2 separate regions of the Homo sapiens genome follow, and region 1 is linked to region 2. Evidence: fine-mapped expression QTL. Tissue or cell type: whole blood. Region 2 holds a variant in brackets; the other region holds the start of a gene. All regions are shown on one strand. Distances are between the middles of the regions.

Evidence for each region.
Region 1: OCIAD1 starts here. The variant in region 2 is fine-mapped to the expression of OCIAD1 in whole blood (TOPMed, PIP above 0.99).

Annotation. Positions count from the first base shown.
Region 1 is chr4:48,829,830-48,832,633 of GRCh38, forward strand. OCIAD1 (OCIA domain containing 1) reads left to right here and starts at 1,259. Exons shown (of 9, transcript NM_017830.4): 1 at 1,259-1,420; 2 at 2,791-2,804. The coding sequence starts at 2,796. RefSeq lists enhancers at 827-1,206, 1,049-1,612, 1,613-2,175.
Region 2 is chr4:48,854,384-48,857,187 of GRCh38, forward strand. All of the region lies in intron 7 of OCIAD1 (OCIA domain containing 1), which reads left to right. All of the region lies in intron 1 of OCIAD1-AS1 (OCIAD1 antisense RNA 1), which reads right to left. Among named protein-coding and RNA genes, the nearest start is that of OCIAD1-AS1, 4.4 kb to the right of the region's middle. The variant T/C (reference allele first, on the strand shown) is at 1,484.

The DNA.
Region 1 (2,804 bases), 25 kb before region 2:
CTGTCCTAAAGGAGCTCTGTAACAGAGACAGACGTAAGTAAAAAAGATCACTATTCAGTGCAAAAGTACATTGCAGTGACAGCAGTATGGACAAGCTAAGGACTAAGAAGGAAGAGTGATTACTTCTCTGGGGTGTATTTCAGGGAAGGCATCACAAAGGTGGTGATGTAAAAGCAGAATTTTGAAATATCGTTAGAATTGACAAAGCAGGGAGTAGAGTTGTACTGGGGAAACAGTGCACAGAGAACACTGAGGGCAAAGACCTCCAGGCTGTTTCTTGTTAGTGAACCCTGAAATAGAAGAAAGTGACGCTCAAAAGGCACAGGCACCACCAGGCCATGATGGGCCTTATATTCGGTGCATGACTGGAGCTATCAAAAGACTCCAAGGAAGGAAACACAGCGTTGGATTCGTTTCACGTGACTGTCTCCCTTAAGTATGTCTTCGGGAGAATAAATGTTAAATGATAAAGTGGCAAAGGGGCTCAGAAAGAGATGAGAAACCTGAGAGGCTTTGAGGGGTTGACAAATAGTAGGACTGGATTTGCCCACTGTTTAGTCACTAATAACTTGCAGTACATGGCACTAATAAATACTTCAGGAAGGAATGTATGAAAATGAGTAAAATGCTGATTGGCTGGGTGTGGCAGCACCATGTCTGATGTGTAGAAGTCGTGAGCCCCCTCATTAATAGACAGTGATGTGTTGTTTTAATTCTAACAACCCTATATGTAATTCCACTTTTCAGGTGAGAAAAACCGTAGCCTCAGAGAGATCACGGTACCCTGCCAGAGGTTGTAGAACTTGTTGGAAACTTGGATCAAGAGGGTGTGACAAATAACCAGGTATGCATGCTTAAAAATTACTTTCTACTACTTAGCCTACAGGCTCAAAGAATGAAATTATCTCATAAAAGAGATAATTTATAAAGTCGCTCTCAAAAGAGGGACAACAGAGGGTTCCGGAACGTTCCCGCCAGCCGCCACGAGAAGACCAGAGAGGTGCATCACAACAGCCCAAAGTCAAGCCTACTCCCAACCCCCTTCCCCGCCATCCAGGGAAGGGGCGGGGCAGGGTTCTTGGTCCGCCGCTGTCGCCTGCGCAGTCGCAGTGCGGCTCGTGGCCGCAGCTGCCTGAAAGGGCAAAGGGACGAGTATACGCATGCGTCTATTCCTAGGCTGCTGGCTCTCAGACCCGCAGTGAGGTCTGACGTCATTTCCTGCCGTAAGTATACAGTGCCTCCGGGTCGCGGTCATTTTGAGCCCCTGTCTGGATGACTTCTTGCGGCTGTTCTACCCCTCCCCCTCCCCGCGGTACCTTGCACTTTTCTCCCTCCCTGCCCCCTCTCGAGTCCACCCTCCGGGCCTTCTGCCCCTGATCGCTTGGTTTTCCTTGCAGTCGCCTGCTGCTGTCGTCGGGAGGTGGGTGAGGTGACGCAAACAGCCCCGTTGTTGCCCTCCGCGTATCCCCTCACCACCTTTGCGGCCATCCACGACTTTCGCACCTTCCGCCATTTTCCTGCCTGTGAGGGTGGACAGATCGCGCTCGGGTCTCGGCCTCCTGAGTGCCGGTGACTGCGGGAGGCGACGGAGTGCTTCTGGGGGTGTGAGCTGGGGAAGTTCGTGGTCACGGATGCGTGTGGGGTTGCTGCTCAGTCTGTAACGGCAGGTGGGAGACGGACACTGGGTGGAGGATGGAGTGCGGTAATCAGCGGTTGTAGGCCGCTTAGGCTTTAATCCAGCGTTGTTTTGTGTAAAGAACTTAAAATGGTATTGTCTTAAGCGCCGTGTCAGCCCTGACAGTCTTCCTGGTGTTTCTAGGAAGGATGCCGTTATGGGAAATAAGAGGGTTTCATTTTTTCTCATACGGTTGTAGGGTAAAGGTAGTTTATTCAGCAGGCTCCATCCATCCATGAATTCAGCTGACCTTTTTTATTTCTTTTCTCTAATTAAGGGGTTGGCATGTAGTAGGCCTTCATGGCTTATTGACTGAATGAATTATGGAAGGGCTCAGTTGCTGTCCTCATTGTGTATGCCATTTCCTGTTTCCATGCAAATTGTTTTTAAAATGAGAATAATCATGATCCCACGTAAACGTTCTGTAAAATACGGTTACTTGATCTGTTGGTCTGAGTCCCAATATATGAGTTTTTAAAAAAAGAACCAAATAAAAAATGTATATTCTTGGAATTTTATGCATTTTTTTCTTATATTCTTGGGGTGGAAGGAAATTTGGAGATACAGAATTTGCTGTTAGTTTTACCTCACAGGGAGAAGGATATGTCGTCTTTGTTATTCCATAATTTTGGAGTGCTCCTTTGTGGGAGAGGTTGAATGTTTCTGATGATTATTTCATTTTTTAATATGGAAGCTCAGAAATGACTTGAAATTTTTTTTCTCTTCTATTTTGGGGAATTATCCTAATCATTGGGCATAGATTCGAGAAACGACCAAAACATAGGATGTGAAAGAACCCACTTCCAGGAGGAAAAAATATGTCTGTTATTTTATTGATATCTTGATAGTAAAAAAAATTATAAACTTATAAAACGCATATGCTTTTTCAATTAAGGGACTTAACCTGAATAGTGAGTTCCAAATTAATCAGTAGGTCTGTTACTTTTTCATCTAGCTATTTACATGTGGAGTACGTAAGATATAGTAGTGTTTAATAAATATTTGTTGATTGATTGCTGTGTAGACTAGTAGTTTTACTATATCATACGTCTTGATTTACTTTGACCTATCTAGTGATAGTTTCTAATACTTAATATGTAATGTTTTTGATACAGGAAAGATGAATGGG
Region 2 (2,804 bases):
TTTATTTCTGGAATGTTCCATGTAATATTTTCAGACCATGGTTGACTGCAGGTAACTGAAACCCTGGAAAGCGAAACCACAGATAAGGGGGCACTACTGTATTCTAGACATGCACTAACTCTTTCCTTGTGATGACTTGCATCTTCCCCACCATTTGCATTAGGAAATTCTGTTATATAGTTTTTTTCCATACAAAAGCCAACAAACAAAAAGCCCTTTGGTATCTACCCACAGACTACTTAGCAAGGCCATGTCTTAATATTATTTTATGCCTTCCACAGCAGCCATCCATCCATCCACTGCTCTGCCTTCTGACCCCCTTCTCTAAATCAAAGTGGCTACTTTTTTACTGCTCTCCACATGGGCCAGCAGTGGCCTGCTTTTGCTTTGCCCCAGATGCTATCCTCCCCTACCAGGGCATCTTATTCTTTGGTTTAAGTCCTACTTTAGTTCTGCTTTCTTTTACCAGGAATTCAGAGAGTTATTAATCTTTTAAAATAGCAAGCACTCCTTCAGAGCTGTTAGGAGACTTAGAGTTTATTACAGTTAGATTTAAATCAGTGCCACTTTACATTTTTTTATTCCTTCCAGTTCTTTATAACCTTCCCAAAATAGTAAATCATGTTCTCTCCATAGTGTGGGAAATTCTCCCCAGTCTTCTTCTGTCTGATGTATATTTTCATTATTTGTTCCAGAATTTTATAATGGTAAAATATTTTTTATAAGAAAAAGTATTAGACCTGGAAGGAACTTCAGAGATCATCTGCTCAAACTACCATATTTCGCAATTGAGAAAACCAGGATTCAAAGAAGCTTAGTGATTTGCCCAAGGACATTTCCTAATTGTCAGCAGAGTGGGGTTAAGAACCCAAGGTTCCTGAAGTACACACGATTTCCTTCAGAATTTTTAATATAACATATATGGTGAAGGGAAATGAGTTCAGTAATTACTTATTACTAATGAAATGCAAAGTGTTTTAATCCCAATATAAGGTTATAATATTTTTCTTTACATTCTTTTTTTAGTAAGAAAAATGTAGTTTTGAACCATCATATAATACTAGAACTAATTAGGAGAAATTTAAATCCTCTTTGCTTTATATAAGTATAGTATATATTTATTTAGCAGAATAAATGTTTATGGTTGAAAATGGCTGGGTGCAGTGGCTCATGCCTGTAATCCCAGCACTTTGGGAGGCCGAGGCGGGTGGATCACCTGAGGTCAGAGTTCAAGACCAGCCTGACCAATATGGCGAAACCCTGTCTCTACTAAAAATGCAAAATTAGCTGGGCATAGTGGCACATGCCTATAATCCCAGCTACTTGGGAGGCTCAGGCAGGACAATCACTGGAACCTGGCAGGGGGAGGTTTCAGTGAGTCGAGATTGTGCCCCTGTGCTCCAGCCTGGGTAACAGAGTGAGACTCTGTCTCAAAAAAAAAAAAAAAAGTTTATGGTTGAAAACATTATTTAATGTATAGTTA[T/C]GTTGCTTAGAAAATTCTGATTATTCACTGGGATCCTACCTTTGAGTTCTAAATAAGTATCACAAAAATTATTTTTTAAAAAGTTAATATTAAAAGTATATGCCCAATTTGTATGTCTTATTGAAAACATCTTTGAAAAACAGTACTTTTGGTGTGGTATGTGGTAGGTAAGACTTTGTAAGTTAAGTAGTTGTTCACTGAATGTTAGCATCTTTTTTTTTTAATGTTCATATGGCCTTTTTTGCTGTTTATAAATTGTATAAACTATGTTCACTATTTGATCCTGTCAACCAATATTAGGAGTAACCACTGCATTATATTTACATTTGACTCTATGATAATATGTAATATTCACATTTTGACTCTCTTTGGGAGAAATAAAGAATAAATGTTAGTTCCCAGGCCAAAATAACAGTTGATACTTTCTTCTGCATCAACATTGCATCTGTTAGACTGGAATGAAAACAACACATATTCTGATTAAAGGCTATGTTTTATACTTTTCAAGTAATTATTTTCAACTTTTTTTCCTTTTTTTTTGAGACAGAGTTTTGCTCTTGTTGCCCAGGCTGGAGTGCAATGGCGCGATCTCAGCTCACTGCAACCTCCGCCTCCTGGGTTCAAGCGATTCTGCCTCAGCCTCCTTAGTAGTTAGGATTACAGGTGTGTGCCACCACGCCCAACTAATTTTGTGTTTTTAGTAGAGATGAGGTTTCTTGTTGGCCAGGCTGGTCTTGAACTCCTGACCTCAGGTGATCCGCCCGCCTCGGCCTTCCAAAGTGCTGGGATTATAGTTGTGAGCCATTGTGCCTGGCCTATTTTCAGTATTTTTGTTTAAATTTTGTAAAAAGGTAAAATAAATGATTTTTGAAAATAGCTGGAGTTGTTTTCATAGAGTCTGTGGTTATAGGACTATTTAACTATATATTGAGTAAAATCTATGCTATGTCAAGTTTTATTCAGTTGTCCCTAGTAGAATATATTTCTCTTTTAATTCTGTATACAGTATGAGTAACTCCAGTTTAAAACACTGGTATTTTAATGAGTTTAAATTGTACTGTTATATATTATGATACATATTTTTCTTCTGGCTGTGGTTTAGTTTTTAAAATTTTTGATGTCCATTTTAATTTTTAGAAATAAAAGCTTAAAAATATGGGTGGAAGTAGATTTCAGTTTGATGATTATCTTGGTGAAAGTATAGTACCTGTGAAATGGTGGTAATAATTTGATTCTTTATTCTATTTTGATTGTAGCTCCTTTTGTAAGGAGCATTTGTAAAATTTAGTTGCTTTAGAGTTATACAAATCCTTTTATTACC